3 linked regions of the Homo sapiens genome follow. The protein of the gene in region 1 purifies or fractionates together with the protein of each later gene. This does not show direct contact. Each region holds a gene or a part of one and is shown in the gene's direction. Other genes may lie near its edges.

Region 1 (7,025 bases):
CTAAGTCCTAAGTCAGTGATATCTTTCATGATAAGAGATAGTAGGGTATAGTGAGTAAAGCTTGGGCTCAGAGATAGAAAGTATGAAATTCGAATTTTGCCACTTACTAGCTATGTGACTTTGAACTTAGATTCTGACACTATGTATATTATCATTTATAAAATGAGAACCCTACTTCACAGGGCTACAGCAAATGAAACATACATCTCTATAAAACAGCAAAACACTCTATGTTAGCCAAATAGAAGGCACTTAAGACTAATGTAAACCAGTTTGGCCATTTTTCCCCCATCTACTTTATGTTTACAGCTTTCTTCACCTGGGCTGGCCCTACTGCAAGTTGAACACAAAGATACTCAACATGGTTCACTTGAGGAATACCAACAGGGCCAAGAGACTAAAATATGTCAGCCTATTAGGACCCAGAATTCTTTTCATGAATTTGGCTTCTCCCCAACCTGGTTTTTGGTGGCAATTTTTGAGGGACAGAATTTAGCTCAGATAACTGTTCATTTGTTTATTTCTTTAATGCAGGTTTTATCTTCGTGAAGACTAAGGAACTGTGTGTTACATATTGTTCTGTTGCTTTTAGGTTAAGTTACGTATTTTATTTAGGCCAGGCACAGTAGCTCATGCCTGTAATCCCAGCACTTTGGGAGGCCGAGATGAGAGGATTGCTTGAGCCCAGGAGTTAGACACCAGTGTGGGCAACATGGCAAGACTCAGTCTTTACAAAAATGTTAAAAATTAGGCCAGGCCTGGTGGCACATGCCTGTGGTCCCAAATATTCAGGAAGCTGAGGTGGAAGGATTCCTTGGGGGTCGTGGCTGTAGTGAGCTGTGTTTGTGCCCCTGGGTACTACAGCCCAGGTAACAGAGCAAGACCCTGTCTTAAAAAAAAATGTTATTTTTCAGTAAATCAATTATTAAACATTTACACTTATTGAATTTATTTAACAAATACTGAGTGTCTTCATATGCCCAGTACTATTCTAGGCCCTTGGTATATAGTGGTGAATTGAACATAACAAAAATGCCCTTATGGAGCTTCAATTCCAGGGGTGTTTGTGTTGTCTAAACTGTCAAAGTGAAGACTATTTTAATTGTAATATGAATGGTATGTTCAATTTATACCATTTAATCTTTCAGGGTTTTTAAACTAGAGGCAACTTTTCTTTTTTTTTTTTTTTTTTTTTTTTTGAGGCGAAGTCTCACTCTGTCACTTGGGCCAACTGGTGACAACTTCTTTTATTTATTTATTTATTTATTTTTTATTTTTTTTTTTGAGACAGAGTCTCGCTCAGTCGCCCAGGCTGGAGTGCAGTGGCGCAATCTTGGCTCGCTGCAAACTGTGCCTCTTGGGTTCACGCCATTCTCCTGCCTCAGCCTCCCGAGTGGCTGGGACTACAGGCACCCGCCACTAAGGCCAGCTAATTTTTTTGTATTTTTAGTAGAGACGGGGTTTCACCGTGTTAGCCAGGATGGTCTCGATCTCCTGACGTCGTAATCTGCCGGAATTGACCTCCCACAGTGCTGGGATTACAGGCGTGAGCCACCGTGCCTGGCCTGTGGCAACTTCTTAATAGCTGAAGTTGAATTCCCTTGTCCTTTGCAAATAACTCACTTTAGTTTAGCTATTATTTGTTTATATTGGTAACTTTGATTACTGTAATATTTGTAGGTGGAAAGAATACATATACATACGTATATATATACATACATACATATATATATGGAATTTTTTTTTTTTTCATGGAATTTCGCTCTTGTTGCCCAGGCTGCTGGAGGGCAGTGGCGCGATCTCGGTTCACCACAACCTCCGCCTCTCGGGTTCGCGTGATTCTCCTGCCTTAGCTTCCGGAGTAGCTGGGATTACAGGCATGTGCCACCACGCCTGGCTAATTTTGTATTTTTAGTAGAGACTGGGTATCTCTATGTTGGTCAGGCTGGTCTCGAGCTCCTGACCTCAGGTGATCCACCTACCTCTGCTTCCCAAAGTGCTGGGATTACAGGGGTGAGCCACCACTCCTGACCATATGGATATATATTCTTTGGATTGCCTTTCGTTTTTATAAACTATAAGTGTTTTATGTAAATTTATTATTTGAACCTTTTAAGTTGTTGTGGGGAAACAAGAATGGTGGAAAGGGGGGTGATTTTTCTAGTGTCGTGAATGTTTCAGTGTCACAAATATCATTTCCCTGAAATGATAACCATTCATAAGCCCAAACCCTTTATGTCAGGCCTTTTGAACCTTAGTTAGCTCTTCTGTCTTTCATTGCTTCAATTCTTTAATAAGAAGTTGTTATATATTACTTTCTCTTTGACCACCGACATTCTCATTTTTCTCTAAAACTTCTCAAAGTTAGGAGTGAATTTACAGAGAACAATGCAAAGAATATTATAACAAACTGCAGGAATGGACCTCTGATTTGAAGCCTGGACCTACTGAGAAATGCTTTTGGAAACTACTTCTGCTTCCCCCGTCTTAAAATAAACACGCATTAATTTGTTGAGGTTGTTTTGCATCACTTACTTGCATCTAGTAAATAGGCAAGGAGTGTAGCCAGAATGTCCCCAGAATGGTCAGATGGCAGAAAGAGCAGAGAGAGTGGTCTATTCTTCCAGCCCCCTCCCACAATGGTATAGTGAATTAGAATTCTGCCTCTGTGAGAGTGTTATCCACAGATGTATACCCCTTTGAAGACCAAGGAAGCTATACTCTGATAGGAGCATGCTGTATAAACAATTTCACATTTTCTTTGTCAGTTGACCTCTTTTTCTCAATCACATCACCATGTTGACAATTACAGACCAATGCCCAGAATTAAAAATCATCATCAATTATATTTATTTCCAGATATATGTAAAAAATGGAAACATCATAGATAAAATTAAATCCCCTTTGACCACCATCCCCAATGGCATATCTTCTCATCCCCACTCCACTATCATAAAATGGGTTTATATTCTTCCATCCTTCTTGGTTTAATGCTTTTATATAGAAAAGTATATTAATAGACTACTTTTTTTTTTTTTTTTTTGAGTCAGGGTCTTACTCCATTGCTCAGGCTGGAGTGGAGGGTCACAGTCACGGCTCACTACAGCCTCAACCTCCCAGGCTCAAGTGATCCTCCCACCTCAGCTTCCAGAGTAGCTGGGACTACTGGTGTGCACCACCACACCTAGCTGATTTTTTGTATTTTTTTTGTGGAGATGGAGTTTCACCACGTTGCCCAGGCTGGTCTCAAACTCCTGGGCTCAAGTGATCCGCTCGCCTCGGCCTCCCAAAGCTCCCAAAGTGGGGGACTACAGGTGTGTTCCACCACATCCAGCTTTCAACTTTTTTTTTTTTTTTTTTTTTTTGAGACAGAGTCTCACCCTGCCACCCAAGCTGGAGTGCAATGGCGTGGTCTCGGCTCACTGTTGCAACCTCCACCTCCTGAGTTCAATTGATTCTCCCACCTCAACCTCCCAAGTGGCTGGGACTACAAGCACGTGCCACCACACCCAGCTAATTTTTTGTATTTTTAGTAGAGACAGGGTTTCACTGTGTTGGCCAGACTGGTTCAAACTCCCGACCTCGTGATCCACCTGCCTCGGCCTCCCAAAGTGCTGGGATTTCAGGCATGAGCCGCCACACCTGGCCTTTTTTCTTTTTTAATCCAGTCTCGTTTATGACATTTAGATTCTTATTTTCTCTTTATTATTTTTCCTGATAATTTGACTTTCATTCCCCTTTCTTGTCATTAGCTCTACTGAAAGTGTACTGAAGGGCTGGGTGCAGTGGCTCACACCTGTAATCCCAGCACTTTGGAAGACCGAGGCAGGCCAATCACTTGAGCTCAGGAGTTCAAGACCAGCCTGGCCAACATGGCGAATCCCCATCTCTACAAAAAATACAAACATTAGTAGGGCATAGTGGCACATACCTGTAATCTCAGCTACTCGGGAGGCTGAGGCACAAGAATCGCTTGAACCTGGGAGGCAAAGGTTGCAGTGAGCTGAGATCGTGCCACTGCACGATCTCTCTCTCTATATATGTATATGTATACTAAAGGTCACCAATAATTTCTTAGTAAATATAATGACATTTTCTTCAGGACTTTTTATCCTTCAGAATCACGTTACCTTTTTCTTCCTTCAATTTCTATGTATGGTTCAATTCTCAGCATTTACTATTTTGAGAAAGTACACTTACTCACTCTCTTTCCTGTTTATTCAAACAACTCCCAGATCTGTGTCTTTATTCCTGACCTCTTTTCCTCATTTCCTTTAGCACCTAATTTCTACCTGCCCAGTGGACATTTCCATTTGTGTGTATACAGTATTGCCAATCAATCTAAAACTAAGCTACTTATCTTGACTTCTCAATTTTTGGTCTTTGATATTACCAGTCTTCTTGTCCACCAGCTATAAAACATAAATTTTATTTGTTTGTTTGTTTTTGAGACAGGGTCTGGCTCTGTCGCCCAGGCTGGAGTGCAGTGGCCCATCTCGGCTTACTGCAACCTCCATCCCCCACCCTCCGGCTCAAAATATCCTCCCACCTCACCCTCCTGACTAGCTGGGACTGCATGTCCAGCTAATTTTTGTATTTTTAGTAGAGACGGGCTTTCGCCGTGTTGCCCAGGCTGGTCTCAAACTCCTGAGCTTAAGTGACCCTCCTGCCTCAGCCTCCCATAGTGCTGGGATTACAGGCATGAAGCTAGCCAAAACATAAGTTTTTCTTGTTTTCTTTGTTTTTGTTAAAGAAACAGGGTCTTGCACTCCCAGGCTCAAGCCTCCCAAGTAGCTAGGAGCACAGGGCAAGCCAGCATGCCCAGCTAATTTTTTTTAAACTTTTTTTTTTTTGGTGGGGAGGGGGATAGAGACGGGTCTCACTATGTTGCCCAGGCTGTCTCAAACTCCTGTTCTCCACCAATCCTACCTTGGCCTCCCAAAGTGTTAGGACTACAGGTATGAGCTACCTTGCCCGGCCTATTTACATTTTTTTGCTGCCTTCTTTCCTTCCAGATCCACTTGTTCATCACATATTGTTGATTTTCCTTTTTCTAGCTTCAATTTTTCACTTGGTCCAGTTTGGCCTACAGAGTGGCACTAGAATTAGCGAAGGCACAATTATAATCATGCGATTTCTATACTTAAAAATCTGCCAGTCTCTGTGTCACGTAAAAGGATAAAACGTAAACTTTCAACGGGGTAACGTGCTTTGATCTGTTACTATAATCCAGCCCCAACCTACCTTAACCATCCTTTCCTGCACTCCCCTTCATTGACCCCTGAACATATCCTGCTCTTTCATTTCTTTATTTTTGCTTTAGGTGCCTTCCTCCCTCCTAACACCTGGTGAAGTCTTACCCATATTGAATTCAGCTGAAATACCACAGTGACACCTTGCACAGCTCCCCCAAACAGAGTTAATAACTCCTTTCTGTGTTTCAATAGAACCTTGTTGCATTTATTATAGTGTATCACATTGTACTGTAAATTTTTTAATATACTTGTCCCATGTCTCAGAGCTTCCCACACACACACATATTCATCTGGAAGTTCACTGAGAACAGAAACTGCCTGTATTCCCTATCCTATTTTCCCACAAGGGCCTTAGTGCATAGGAGACCCTCTTTTGTATCATGATGTCTTTCTTTTCATTCTTTGTGACATATCAGTGCTTAGAATAATCATGCAGAAGCACCATTTTTTTAAATTGCCTCATTTGCTCAAAACTTGTATTTTCTTACTGCTTATTGAGATTAAGTTCAGGGCTGGGCACTTTGGGAGGCTGAGGCAGGAGGATCGCCTGATCTCAGGAGTTTGAGACCCACCTGAGCAAAATACTAAGACCCCCGTCTCTACAAAAAATAAAAAAGTAACCAGTGTAGTGGTGCATGCCTATACTCCCAGCTACTCAGGAGGCTGAAGCGGGAGGTTCACTTGAGCCTGGGAGATTGAGGCTGCAGCAAGCCATTATCACATCACTGCACTCCAGCCTGGGTATAACAAAGCAAGACCTTGTCTCAAAAAAAAAAAAGAAAAGAAAAGAAAAAAAGATCTGGCCGGGCTCAGTGGCTCATGCCTGTAATCCCAGCACTTTGGGAGGCCGAGAGGAGCAGATTGCTTGAGCCCAAGAGTTTGAGACCAGCGTGGGCAACATGGAGAAACCCTGTGTCTACTTAAAAAAAAAAAGAAAGAAAGAAAAAATAGCTGGGTGTGGTGGCCCACACCTGTAATTGCAGCTGCTGGGGAGGCTGAGATGGGAGGATCACCTGAGCCCAGGTTATGGAGGTTGCAGTGAGCTGAGATTGCACCATGCCACTGCACTCCAGCCTGGGCCACAGAGCAAGACCCTGTCTCAAAAAAAAAAAAGAGATCATATTCTTTAGCCTGTCCTTCAGGACACTCACCATTATTCACAGACCATTTATTATGCTCCCTATTATGTTTAAGATATGCCGTACATAGCTGGCACCAACTGCCTTTTTAAAGCCTTTCTTCTCTTTATGAATAAGTGTATAAGTACCCAAGTCTTTTGCCCAAGCCAAACTGGCTTGCGCACTTTCTTCCAAACATAAGGTGGTTTTTGTTTTTGGGTTTTGTTTGGCATCTTTTCTTTCAAAGCTCTACCCATTTTTCAAGACCTAGTTAGGTTCTGCCTTGTTTATAATGCTCTTCTGACCATGTCTGCAGAAATATTTTTCTCTTCTTCTCCAGACTCATGTAGCAGTTCATCTTCAGTGCCTCCTAATTCTTTTTTTTTTTTTTTTTTGAGGCAGAGCCTTCACTCTGTTGCCCAAGCTGGAATGCAGTAGTGCAACCTTGGCTCACTGCAGCCTCCGGGTTCAAGCGATTCTCATGCTTCAGCCTCCCAAGTAGCTGGGATTACAGGTGTGTGCCATCATGCTCAGCTAATTTTTTGTATTTTTAGTAGAAACAGGGTTTCACTGTTTTGGCCAGGCTGGCCTTGAACTCCTGGTCTCAAGCAGTCCTCCCCACTCAGCCTCCCAAAGTGCTGGGATTACAGGC
Region 2 (7,025 bases), on another chromosome or scaffold:
TAAATCAATATGCACTGTGAACACTGAATCCTGATATCTGGCTATTTTTTTTCTCTCTCTTTATATACAGTGTTAATGTACCGCGGTGAGGCTCTTGAAGATTTCACAGGCCCGGATTGTCGTTTTGTGAATTTTAAAAAAGGTGATCCTGTATATGTTTACTATAAACTGGCAAGAGGATGGCCTGAAGTTTGGGCTGGAAGTGTAAGTAAAATATCGACATACTTTATTTGCTTAATTTTTATTGGCTTCTTTAGCACTGTAGAGTTAAATGACTGCATTTTCTTGGGACCTTTGATGGAGTTAACTTGTCCTCTCTGCCTGACTGTGAAAAAAGATGGCCCTGTGTCCCCAGCAGGCCTTGGGTCTGCACAGAGTAGGGGCTCAGCAGAGCCTTCTGAAATAGAACTGATTCTGGCAAGTTCCCCTCAGGGTCAACCTCTAGGATGCTGCATACGTATTAGAGGTTGAAATGGTAAGAGCTGAAAAATACTTCATTGCTTTAAAAAGGAAGTATTCATAGGAATTAGACTTACTCCTGTAAACTATATGTGAGAGAGTGTTTCAGGCATGTAAGCTTAAAGTTGATTTTATGTGTATTTCTTTGTTTATATTATTATTTATGAAAAAGTGGCAGTCTTGGGAACAGTTCCCTAATCATCTGTGCTATTATAAGTCTGTAAAAAAGCAAAATGTTGTTTCTCGTGTGCTTTCTTGTTTGTTTGTTTTTTTTTTTTTGAGGCGGAGTCTTGCTCTGTCGCCCAGGCTGGAGTGCCGTGGCGCGATCTCGGCTCACTGCAAGCTCCGCCTCCCGGGTTCACGCCATTCTCCTGCCTCAGCCTCCCGAGTAGCTGGGGCTGCAGGTGCCTGCCACCACACGGCTAATTTTTTGTATTTTTTTAGTAGAGACGGGGTTTCACTGTGTTAGCTAGGTCTCGATCTCCTGACCTTGTGATCCACCCACCTTGACCTCCCAAAGTGCTGGGATTACAGGCGTGAGCCACCGCAACCAGCCTCTTGTTTGTATTTTTGTTTGCAGCCTTGGGGTCATCCTTGTCCTGCTTTTCAGACACTTGTGTCTGGAGGTTACCCCAGGGGATTGATTCCCAGCTGATTTTATGGGTACCCTGCTATCAGACCTGGCAATCAATGACTGCATCATGCTTTGGTATTTTTAATGAGGAGATTCACTGGGAGTGACCTGATTGAGAGGCCTGTCTTATGAGTTATTGTCCTTTCCTTTTTAGAAAGCGTGATATGTGGACTGTGTCTTTACTTCAAGTAGTAAGGGTCCTCGATATCTTTAGGATTGTCCCAACTTAGAGAAATACCCATCCCGACTATGAAAGTTTTCACTGTCAGTAAAACACCAAACAAACAAAGAGAAAATAAGGCTTGAGAAATCCCCTTGGGGAAAATAGACTGATTTTGTTGGCATTCCAGGTTCCTAGGGAGTAATCTTGGGAAACAACAACTGGTCAGGTTCAGCTCTCCTATTTAGAGAGCATCCCAAGTGACTTGCTCCATACCAAAACAAATCTATTCTATTTCCTTCAAGTCTACCTAATGAGATTTGTTGATAATCTTTACTCTTGGAAATGTTTTTCCATGTACCTAGGCTGCGTTTTTTCATAGAAAAGTTAAGTTTTTTTTTCCACTCCTCATCTTTGAGCATTTGGATGAATGAACTTGACTTAACATTTTCCTCCCACTGCAGTTTTGCTCATTCACGTCTTCATCTCTGGATGTCCTGTCAGTCTTTCTGGGTCACACCTCTCATCCTGCCTTCTTAAGGAACGCTGCCTTCAGCACCCAGCCAGAAGGGATCTTTGCTGCCTGATGATTGTTTAGGTGGCACTTTGTTTGCACTGTTCATGTGGCATTTGCTTTACTGCTTTGTATGGCAGTTAATTTGTGTACTGTCTTAGCTCACGTAAAGTGAAAGACTCTTTAATGGAAAGGCTCATGCCTTATCTGTCTTCTTTTTCAGTATTTCCTGACGAGGCAGTGGCATTTATTTATATTTGTCCTGATATTATCTTATGCAGAATTTGTTCTCTTAAGGCGATACTCTACTTTCCCTCCTACCCCCCGCCCAAATGAAATCAACAGTACCTTGGCAGAAATGATGTATGAAAGCAAAATTAGACATAAAGATTTTTTCTTGTCATGTGAGCCTATGTTTTTTTTTTTGTTTTTTTTTTGGTCAAATCATAAGAAATGAGATGCCACCTGTGGTCCCAACTGACAAAGATTAAGGAAGGTAAATGTATTGTATTTCCCTTTCCCTATATACCTCTACCTCTGATTTGTTTCCTTTTTCCAGGTTCTCCCTTAAAATAGTCTCCCCTCTAATTTGATGAACCTTATTCTTAGGAAATTAAAAACTCTGTCTTCAGCTTTCAAAATGATTCTCATTTGTTTCTTAGTTTTCATTCTGCAGTCTTTTTTGGTTTCTTAGCATTTTAGACTTGATCTGCCAATAACACAGAGTTTAATTGCCCTTATCTAATCTCCATGGCAGTATTTTACTACTAATACTGGCTTTCAGATAGTTTTCAGATCAAGAGCACTCATGAATGGAGATGTTTTATGAATTAGTGATAAGATGGCCTTTTTTTCTTTTTGTGCATTTGATTTACATGCCAGCCTCCTCCTTTAATGATTGGGAGATCTACCTCTCCTTTCAGACAGTAGCTAGTAAAAGACTGTGTGTTTCTCAAGAGGGCACATTTTACTAGTGCTGAAAATGAATGGAATTATTTTCTGTAGAGATTTTGGTTTGCATGAAATGAAAGCTTGGTGGGCAGATTAGTGTGTATTACACTGTAATTTTGTTTTGTCTCCAGTTACCTGTAATATCGTTTTGGAAAATGGCAGTATAGCACATCATATGTGCAAATACAGTTCATCCTTGGGCAACACAGGTTTGAACTGTGTGGGTCCACTTATAATGCAGATTTCTTTCAATAAATATATTGTAAAATTTTGTGGAGGTTTGCATTAATTTGTTAAAAACTCTCAGACCGCATAGCCTAGAAATACTGAAAAAATTAAGAAAAAGGTATGTTATTGACATGTAAACCATATGTAGATCCTAGTGTATTTTATTCTTTACTACCATAAAACATACACAAATCTGTATAAAAAGTTACAGTTTATCAAAACGTACACACACAAACTCAGATCTTACATGGCACCTTTTGCAGTCGAGAGAAATATAAACAAACGTAAAGATAAAATATTAAATCATAATTGCATAAATTAATTGTGCTACCTACTGTACTATAATAGTTCGTAGCCACCTCCTCTTGCTATTCTAGTGAGCTCAAGTATTGTGAGTATCCACTTAAAATGCCATGCGACGCTAATCATTTCCACGTGAGCAGTTCATCTCTCCAGTAAATTGTACAGTGAGTAAAAAGTGATCTCTTGTGGTTCTCATGTATTTTTTGTGTTTAGTGCAATACTGTAAACCTTGAATAACACTCTGGGACCCATACAAAGTGTCACTAGTGATGTTGGAAGTGGTCTCAAATAGCGGAGAAAAGTAATGACATTACAAGAAAAAGTTGATTGCTTGATATGTGCTGTAGATTGAGGTTTGCAGCTCTATCGTTCATATTTCTCATACAGAATTTGATTGATATGTGTCCCTTTTGCCCATTCTTTTGTGTAGGTTGGACGCACTTTTGGATATTTTCCAAAAGATTTAATCCAGGTAGTTCATGAATATACCAAAGAAGAGCTACAAGTTCCAACAGATGTAAGTTGTGGATTTCTGTCTTGTTCTCAGTTATAAGTTGGCTTATAAGTGACTACCTAGAAAAAAAGAAAAATTTCAAAAGAATTTAAATGAGATTTTATCATAATCTGATAGTTATCTAATATATGGAAATAGATGTTCTTATATAAGGCTATGTACTCTTTTTTTTTTTTGAGTCGGAGTCTCGCTCTGTCACCCAGGCTGGAGTGGAGTGGCGTGATCTCGGCTCACTGCACGCTCTGCTTCCTGGGTTCACGCCATTCTCCTGCCTCAGCCTCCCAAGTAGCTGGGACTATAGGCGCCCACCACCACGCCTGGCTAATTTTTTGTATTTTTAGTAGAGATGGGGTTTCATTGTGTTAGGATGGTCTCGATCTCCTGACCTCATGATCCGCCCGCCTCAGCCTCCCAAAGTGCTGGGATTACATGCGTGAGCCACTGCGCCCGGCCAAGGCCGTGTACTCTTATACAAGGCTTTTCTTTGCTGCTTTATATGTGAAAAATTAAGAGTTCAGTAGTTTTATATTTACTTATTAATGTTAGAAGGCAAAAAATTTCATTTCACAAGCAAAAGGAGAAATTTGAAAACTACTTATTGGATAGCTGTTAGACATTTTAAGGATATAGAAATCAGGTTAAATTAATTAAGCTCTAATTTTATACTGAGCCAGAAATGCAAACTTACAAAGGTTTTCTTATTATTGACTCTGTAGTGATTTAAGCGATTATAGTTATAGATTTGGAAAAGGGAACCAGAGAGTTTCAGGTGAGGTCCAGTCTCATATCTGTAAGGCGCTAACTACACATTCTGTAGAGCATTTATCTATAGTGCACAATGGCTTCGTGACTAGAAGGATTTTGTGTTCTAGAATCTGCATTCCATCTGATTATTATTTTTTTGAGACAGAGTCTCTCTCTGCCGCCCAGGCTGGAGTGCAGTGGTGCGATACCAGCTCACTGCAGCCTCCGCCTCCCAGGTTCAAGCAATTCTCCTGCCTCAGCCTCTGGAGTAGCTGGGATTACAGGCGCCTGCCACCACACCCAGCCAATTTTTTTGTGTTTTTAGTAGGAACGAGGTTTCACCGTGTTGGCCAGGCTGGTCTCAAACTCCTGACCTCAAGTGATCCATCTGCCTTGGCCTTCCAAAGTGCTAGGATTACAGGCTGCCTTTCATATATATATATAAAAAACACCATGCCCAGCCCCCCATCTGATTGTTTTGTGAGTTTTAGAATTTATAGTAATTGATGTCTGCTTTCATTCAAAAGTCTTTGAGTAGCTCTTTGGAGTTGCTGCAGAGCGTGCAAGCTGCTGGGCTAGGGCAGTTCTTAGAAGAGATTGGCAGAGTGAAGTCACAGAGCTATTGCTATGCTTAAAATTTCTCGACGCTCTCAGGGGTTATATAGTCAATCGTATTGCCTGTTTGGCTTCACTCCTGATGAAGAGACTGCCCGGGATTTGAGTGTGAGACAGCAATTCATTGGTCACAGAGACCTGACCTGTATACTAATTGTAGTTCCCACTGCATGATTCCCTTAATATTAAAAAAATTGGCTCAGAAGTGTGCATGATGGAAAGAGGGAAGTCATTCATCTCCAGTACACAGGACAGTTCTCACCAGAAGATTGTGAATGTTTAGTTAGGGGAAGAAAGTTATCTTTGTTGGTTTTTTAACTTTTCCATCATTTTATGGCTCCTTGTATGTCAATTTGCTTACTGGTGGAGGAAGGGAAAAATACAGATTTACTTGACAGTCCTGAAAGCAGATCTTAGTGACTGGCTAGAATCCTTATTTGGAGTTAGGTACCTACCTTACTGAATCTTGTTTTCAAGTTGTTCTTGTGGCAGTATGAAAATGGGGAGCCTCCTTTACACCATTCTTTGTTCTCTTACATTTTTATATCTCATGCACCTGTATCTCAGTAAGTTCCTTCTGAAGCTGATTTCTTTCCCAGTCCAAGGAAAATATGAGCCCCAAATCCATGTAGACTGAGAGCCTGACAGCCAGGTGATTCTGCCTGTTTCTGACTGGGTGAGCAGAGAAGTATGACATAGAGGGCACAATGTAGAGAAGCTGATGGTCTTTCAGCTCCTCCTGGATGGGTTATAAGGTGAATTCCCAGAACATCAGGCATAGATGATGGGAGTTGGGGAACCCAATAAATGACACCTTACTTTTCCCCACCTGTGCTCAAAACAAAATTGAGAGACCCAGGAGTTGGGCAAATAGGAGATCAAAATGACCCCATTATTTACTGATAAAGCTGTTTGGAGTATGCAGAAATAATGGGCTTTCTAACATTGCGGTCTAAACTAAGATGGACTTATCCAGTCACAGACAGAGCTATCCAATAGGGGTCTCCCCAGGTGGGACTGTCCCTGTAAAACGGACAGCATGGAGGAACAGAATATGTGTTTCCTCTCCAGCAGGTCCCAAACAGAAAACAGGATTGGGACTGAGCAAACTCACCAGCCACATGAATCATTCTTCCCCTGGGGAAGAGAGAATGAAGGGAAGCCAGGAGTATTACTCAGATGGGAAAGTGGGTTCCAGCCTCCTATCCACCCACTGCCCAAGAACAGTCAGTGCCCAGTGTTGACGCAAAAGCTCCTCTAGAGCCAAACGTGAATTCGAGATTATCTCAATCATTAACGTGGATAAGACTTTGCTCTGGTGACACTTGGCTATTGACAGACTAATGTTTTTCTTTTTCTTACAGGAGACGGATTTTGTTTGTTTTGATGGAGGAAGAGATGATTTTCATAATTATAATGTAGAAGAACTTTTAGGGTTTTTGGAACTGTACAATTCTGCAGCTACAGATTCTGAGAAAGCTGTAGAAAAAACTTTACAGGATATGGAAAAAAACCCTGAATTATCTAAGGAAAGGGAACCTGAACCTGAACCAGTAGAAGCCAACTCAGAGGAAAGTGATAGTGTATTCTCAGAAAACACTGAGGATCTTCAGGAACAGTTTACAACTCAGAAGCACCACTCCCATGCAAACAGCCAAGCAAATCATGCTCAGGGAGAGCAGGCTTCATTTGAATCTTTTGAAGAAATGCTGCAAGATAAACTAAAAGTGCCAGAAAGTGAAAACAACAAAACCAGCAATAGTTCTCAGGTCTCAAATGAACAGGATAAGATTGATGCCTATAAACTTTTGAAAAAAGAAATGACTCTAGACTTGAAAACCAAATTTGGCTCAACAGCTGATGCACTTGTATCTGATGATGAGACAACCAGACTCGTTACTTC
Region 3 (7,159 bases), on another chromosome or scaffold:
AACCCTGTCTCTACACAAATAGAAAAATTAGCCAAGCATGGTGGCGGATGCCTGTAATCCCAGCTACTTGGGAGGCTGAGGCAGGAGAATCACTTGAATCCGGGAGGTGGAGGTTTCAGTGAGCCTAGATCGTGCCATTGCACTCCAGCCTGGGCAACTGAGCGAGACTCCTCAAAAAAACAAAACAAAACAAAAAGACTATTTTACTATGCTTCTATTTAACTAACAGCTATGGAATATCTACTATCAAGCCAAGTGCTCAGGAATACAAAGATAAACTATGGTTCTTGACCTCAAAGAGATTTACCATATAATGCAGGAAACTGTCACCTTTCTGAACTACAATTCAATTAAATATCAAATTGACTTTCATGTATCCAAGTATTTGCCTTTTGTATAATGCTACCTACCATACACGTTCTTGTCAGTTTTTTATATACTTGTGATTCAGTACTTCCAAAATATATGCAGAATGACTAAAGTTTATACTCCCATCAGCAAGATCATGTTTCCGCACAGGCTTATCAACAATATCATACAACTTTTAAATTTCCTGTAAATCTTAAGGTCATAAAGTAGTACATTATTATTGTTTAAATTTGCATAATCTGATTACTAACAAGGTTGAGACTATCTAATATGCTTATTAGTCATTTTAACTTTCATTTTGTGAACTGCTTCTCCCTATCCTTTGTCTGCTTTTCTGTTGGGTTTTCTGCTCTATTTTCCGAAGTTCTTTATTTTTAACTATTGATTTTTGTTGGCAATATATACTGCAAAAAATAGATTTCCTATGTGTCTGTTATGGATGACTTTTTTGAACAGAAATCCTTAAATTTAATGTAATAGATTCATCACATTTTCCCTTTACATTGTACCTCCTGTCTGTTAATTTTACAAAATTCTCTCCAACTAAAATGTCCCCAAATTATTTTCCTACGTTTTTTCCTAATTTTCTGGTTTTACTTTTCTTTTTTTTTTTTTTTTGAGACGGAGTCTTGCTCTGTCGCCCCGGTTGGAGTGCAGTGGTGAGATCTCGGCTCACTGCAAGCTCCGCCTCCGGCATTCACGCCATTCTCCTGCCTCAGCCTCCCGAGTAGCTGGGACTACAGGCGCCCGCCACCACAACCGACTAATTTTTTTGTATTTTTAGTAGAGACGAGGTTTCACCGGATTAGCCAGGATGGTCTCGATCTCCTCACCTCGTGATCCGCCCGCCTCGGCCTCCCAAAGTACTGGGATTACAGGCTTGAGCCACCGCGCCCGGCCTGGTTTTACTTTTCATGTTCAGGTCTTATACCCATCTGAATTTGTATATAGATATGATTCAAACTTTATTTTTGTTAATTAAATTGAACCAATTTCTCCAATGTGATAAAATAATTTATCTTACCCAGTGATTCATAATACCAATTTTATCATATACCAACTCCCCATGGACATAATTAGCATGTAAATCTGTGTCTTACACAATTACATTCCATCGTTTGTTCCTCCAAGAGTATCACATACTTTAATAGTAACAACATGCTTTAAATATTAAGAGTTGGGTAAGTATAGGCAGAGAACAAGGGAAATAAAGAGAAATGGTTGATAATTTAAAAAATAATAAATATTAGAGCTTTGCTTATAGCAAATAAAAAATAAATGTTAGGACTTATTATAAATATTAAACTTTAGCAAGTACTTCTTCTGCATGTATTGAGATAAATGTGGGTTTCCTCCTTTGGTCTGTCAGTATTATGGATTATATTGATTTCTGTTTGATGATTTCTGTATTCCTAGGAAAACCCTACTTGGATAAAAAAATAATTCTAATACAACGTTGGCCTCAGGTAGCTAATATTTCCTATGTTTGCCTCTGTAGTCCATAAGTGTGAATTTTTTTTTTTTTTTTTTCTGGAGACTGAGTCTTGCTCTTTCGCCCAGGCTGGAGTGCAGTAGCGTGATGTTGGCTCACTGAAACCTCCGCCTCCCGGATTCAAGTGATTCTCCTGCCTCTCCCTCTGGAGTAGCTGAGACTACAGGCACCTGCCACCACGCCTGGCTAATTTTTGTGTTTTTTATTAGAGACAAGGTTTCACCATATTGGACAGGCTGGTCTCGAACTCCTGACCTCATGATCCACACGCCTCATGATCCAAACTGCTGGGATTACAGGCGTGAGCCATCGCACCCGGCAAGATTAATCTTTTCGTTAAACATGTAATAGAAAGTTACCCCGAAAATCATCTAGACCTGGCTAGTTTTGAATATGTGGGAAACTTAGCCTATTCGAGTTTTCTATTTTTTCTCGGTCTAATTTTGGTATTTGATGTTTTCCCAGATTTTATACTTCATCTAAGCTTTTCAATTTGTTGGCATTTATATATATATCTATAGTTATTCTCCCCTTAATTTGTGTCCTTTCATTTTTTATGTTCTTGAACAGATTTGGCAGTGATACATCAAATTGATAATTTCTTTCAAATAACGTTAGTTTTTGTTAATATCTATGTTGGTTTTAGCGTTTATATTTTAATTCTTTTCCTTCTTTGTGTTTACTCTCCTGGCTTTTTGGTAATATGTGTGTTCCACACACACACAAAAGCAATGGATTAAATTTCTTATTACTTACTATATTAAACATTTAATTACCGTGCTATAATTTATAGCCTGTAATATGTCACTCTTGCTTTAAAATGCAGTAATTATATTAAATATAATTATTAAGTACAGAACTAATAAAAGGATACCATCATGATTTTTAAAATTCAAACAGAGTAAATGTTCCCTTTGAGACTACCTATGCTCAGAACTGATGGATTAGCTGGCACGACCCAGACCGATAAACTGGCTCATCTGACCTAGTGTCCCCCAACCCAGGAACTGACTCGTGCAGAAAGACAGCTTCCACTCCCTGCGATTTCATCCCTGACCAATCAGCACTCCTGGCTCAGTGGCCTCCCCCAACCCACCAAATTGTCCTTAAAAATTCTGCTCCCCAGTGCTGCTCGGGGAGACTGATTTCAGTAATAATAAAACTCCAGTCTCCCATACAGCCGGCTTTGCGTGACTAAGTCTTTATTTGCAATCCCCCTGTCTTGTATCAGTTCTGGCTAGTCAGCGGGCAAGGTGAAGGCTTTCCTTGGGCGGTTACCATCCGAAGCTTTAATTTTAAGTATAATGGCAAGCTGTTGGAAAGCTTTTTTTTTTTTTTTTTTTTTTTTTTTTTTTTTTTTGAGATGGAGTCTGGCTCTGTCGCCCAGGCTGGAGTGCAGTGGCGCGATCTCGGCTCACTGTAACCTCCGCCTCCCGGGTTCAAGCAATTCTCTGCCTCAGGCTCCTGAGTAGCTGGAACTACAGGCGCCCGCCACCACCACGCCCGGCTACTTCTTGTATTTTTAGTAGAGACGGGCGTTCACCGTGTTAGCCAGGATGCTCCCGATCTCCTGACCTTGTGATCCGCCCGCCTCGGCCTCCCAAAGTGCTGGGATTACAGGCGTGAGCCACCCCGCCCGGCCTGGAAAGCTTTTTAAGTTCGGAAAGTAATACGATCTGGATTTCTTTTCTTTTATTTATTTATTTATTTATTTGAAAAAATGTCTCGCTCTCTTGCCCAGGCTGGAGTGCAGTGGCACGATAAATCACAGTTCGCTGCAGCCCCGGGCCCAAACAATCCCCCCGCCTCAGTCTCCGAAGTAGCTGGGACCACAGGTGTGTGCCACCACGCCTCGCTAAGTTTTTAAAATTTTTTTAATTTTTCATTTTTTAATTTTGTAGAGACGGGGAGGAGGAAGAGGGTCGGGGGCGGGGGGGGGGGCGCCTCCCTATGTTGCCCAGCCTAGTCTCGAACTCCTGGGCTTAAGAGATATCCCACCCCTTCGGTCTCCCAAAGTGCTGGGATTATAGGCGTCAGCCACCACCATCATTGGAAGCTAGCTAAGCCTAGGCTGGGCAGATACTTGGACACTTTGAGGGGAGAAGGGAGGGGAAGAAGTTGGAAGGGGGAACGGAAAACCACTCTCCTGGTAGCAGTCTCTGCCCACAACAAACCTTGCCTTCTGCCCTTAAGGAAAATGGCGCCTGGCATAGATGCGCTTCCGGCCACGGAGCCAAACAGAACAGAGGAGGCAAGAGGCCGGAAGTGACCGCCCTTTGCCACTCCCCCTGCCTCCTCTCCGCCTTTAACTTCTCGGGAAGATGAGGCAGTTTGGCATCTGTGGCCGAGTTGCTGTTGCCGGGTGATAGTTGGAGCGGAGACTGTGAGTGCCGGCTGCCTCGACAGCACGTTTGCGACGCTCGGAGTGACCTTCGAGCGACTGGGGACCGGGGGCGGGAGTCGTGCATGCAGCGTTGTGTGACGAGGCGCCGCCCGCCGCGGTCCTGTGGGAAAGGAGAGAGCCAGCTGTCGGGCGAACGGGGCTGGCGGCCGAGTCGAGCCCACGGAGCCCACGAGGCCGTGCTCGGGGGTGGGATTGGGGGATCCGGACCTAGACGGTCGTGCGCGGGGCGGGGGTGGGCTCTGGCCCTGACTCCTGCGCCCGGTGTGGGAAGGTGGGAGGCCTTTTCTAAGGCAGGTGTTCACACCGGCCGGACCGGGGCGTTACCCCCACCCGGCTTTTCCCACGCAGCTCCTTCGCGCGGTCATTTCTTGACTCTCTGGAAGAATCCGCCTTCTTTATGGCCACTGTTCCTTTCCATGTACACACCAGGATTAGACCGTGATTGTTTGTCTTTGGTGTCTTTTTCTTGAGAAACCACCTATGCTTTCTTAAACTTATAGTCCTTGAAGTTTCTGGTACTTTGGCTGGAAGCGTTAATGCCCTCTTGAAGCCTTACCTTTCTAAATGTCAGCCTCACATTGTGATCTTAGAATTTTATTTCCTCACTCTGCATATCCACTCCTACTCACCTAGAGCTTCAGGTTGAGAAACTTAGTAACTTCCTTATTGTGTGTGAATTTGGCTTCGCCTCACTAACCCTGTTCCCTGATGTACTTTAGAGTCACATGCAGTGACAAACTTAGTCACAATTAGTTTCGTCTTCACCAAAGGGAAATTGAGTAGAAATTGCAACCAAGATTTTGGCTAATAGATTTCACTTATTTTAGTGAAATATCATTCAAAAGTCGTCTCTAACTGTCTGACTAGAACACTCCCAAAAAAGAATTACCTAAAAACATTTTGCCAGCATAATTTATTTCATTGGGGAGTTGATGAATGTCACTGGTGTGTCATCAGTTTGCATGTCTATCATCCACTTTAGTTGGTGCTTTTCTAACTTTATCTCCCTCTAGTAGCATAATGGCAGAACCTGTTTCTCCACTGAAGCACTTTGTGCTGGCTAAGAAGGCGATTACTGCAATCTTTGACCAGTTACTGGAGTTTGTTACTGAAGGATCACATTTTGTTGAAGGTTAGTTCTTCTTAAGTTTTTAAAGTAATTACTGTTGAAAATATATAAAAGTGCTTATTCTTTCAACGTTAGTTATTGAACACATGTATAGGGCATTATACTGTATACTATGAGAAGTACCATAATGAATAAAACCCCTTTCTAACCTCCAGAAGGGGAAAATTAAATGGTATTAATAACAACTAAGAACTTTAGTATATTAATAGCTCATTTAATTTTCATCACCACTAGGTGATGAGAAATAGCTATGTTAATAGTTCATTTAATTTTCATCACCACCATCTGTCATTTTAAAGATGAAGAGACGAAGTCAAAGAAAAGTTAAACAGTTTGCCCAAGATCACACAGCTAATAAGTGCCCAGACAAAAAATCAGGCAGTCCACATTTAACCATTATACTTGTCTCCTCCCCAATTTAGCAGTTAAGCCAAGACCTCAGACATATCTCATTCTCTCAAATGAGGCTGAATTGCAGTGGAAAGGGGGAAAAAGGAGTTTCATAACTGTTAAAGGTGATGAGGAATGTCATGTCTTACTAGGGAATACTTCTTTTTTTTTTTTTTGAGACAGAGTCTTGTCTTGTTGCCCAGGCTGGAGTGCAGTGGCATGTTCTTGGCTCACTGCAGCCTCCACTTCCTGGGTTCAAGCGATTCTTCTGCCTCAGCCTCCCAAGTAAATGGGACTACAGTGCACGTGCCACCATGCCTGACTAATTTTTGTGTTTTTAGTAGAGACAGGGTTTCACCATATTGGCCAGGCTGGTCTCGAACTCCTGACCCCATGATCACCTCTCTTGGCCTCCCAAAGTGCTGGGATTACAGGTGTGAGCCACCACACCCGGCCAGGAATCCTTCTTTGGAGATAACTGTTGAAATTTTTTCTGGTTCTTAAGATTATGTACCTCTCGGCCAGGCGCCCTGACTCACACCTGTAATCCCAGCACTTTGGGAGTCCAAGATCGGCAGATTACCTGAGGTTAGGAGTTCAAGACCAGCCTGATCAACATGGTGAAACCCTGTCTGTACTAAAAATACAAAAATTAGCTGGGCCTGGTGGCAGACGCCTGTAATCCTAGCTACTCAGGAGGCTCGAGGAGGGAGAATCGCTTGAACCTGGGAGGCAGAGGTTGCAGTGAACCGAAGTCGCCCACTGCACTCCAGCCTGGGTGACAGAGTGAGACTCCATTTCAAAAAAAAAAAAAGATTATGCACCTCTCAACTATACAATGGAAAGGGAGGGATTCTGTAAATTTTTCCAGCGACAGTGGGGAAACCTTTGGTAGATTGGGAATCAAACTTTTTTTTTCATGTCTCTCCCAACCCTCTCTTACCATATTTTGAGCTCCTTTAGGGCAGGAGCCTGGGATTCATTGTATTCCTAGCACCAGACTTGACACAATTCAATGCTGAATGAGAAAAAAAAAATAGTAGTATAGAATCTTTGTTTCCAATTAGGAAATAATTTGAGCTGGCACAGTTGACTTTTTAAAAATATTTTTTTTTCTAAAAATAATAGGAAGTGAAAATGAAGTTAAATGTGTATTGTACGTGTTATAGATCATGCATCATGCTAGGCACTAGTGAAATGACAGCTTTAGAATCTGAATTCAGTTGTACAGGTTTTAGAACCTCAGTAAAAATGTTGCAAAAAGGAGACAAAGCAAATAAATCAAGAAAAACATACAAGAGCAAAAATAAAATGAAAAGCAAAAATAAATGTAATGATACTTAAACCAGTCTGTCCGTTATTCACCAAATTGCAC

The links. Proteins that work in one complex are often made in the same cells at the same time.
Region 2: the proteins of MARCHF5 (region 1) and MIA3 purify together in Homo sapiens (affinity purification with mass spectrometry; 3 studies listed by BioGRID and IntAct, with this or other methods). This does not show direct contact.
Region 3: the proteins of MARCHF5 (region 1) and MFN1 purify together in Homo sapiens (affinity purification with western blotting; 4 studies listed by BioGRID, with this or other methods). This does not show direct contact.

The regions. Positions count from the first base shown.
Region 1 is NC_000010.11:92,294,142-92,301,166, forward strand, and holds part of MARCHF5 (E3 ubiquitin-protein ligase MARCHF5), read left to right. Parts: intron 1-7,025. UniProt on the Homo sapiens protein: Mitochondrial E3 ubiquitin-protein ligase that plays a crucial role in the control of mitochondrial morphology by acting as a positive regulator of mitochondrial fission and as an important regulator of immune response.
Region 2 is NC_000001.11:222,621,089-222,628,113, forward strand, and holds part of MIA3 (transport and Golgi organization protein 1 homolog isoform 1 precursor), read left to right. Parts: intron 1-70; coding exon 71-204; intron 205-2,218; exon of another isoform or gene 2,219-2,263; intron 2,264-3,679; coding exon 3,680-3,766; intron 3,767-6,486; coding exon 6,487-7,025.
Region 3 is NC_000003.12:179,343,567-179,350,725, forward strand, and holds the start of MFN1 (mitofusin-1), read left to right. Parts: upstream 1-4,142; 5' UTR 4,143-4,244; intron 4,245-5,278; 5' UTR 5,279-5,285; coding exon 5,286-5,397; intron 5,398-7,159. UniProt on the Homo sapiens protein: Mitochondrial outer membrane GTPase that mediates mitochondrial clustering and fusion. Membrane clustering requires GTPase activity. It may involve a major rearrangement of the coiled coil domains.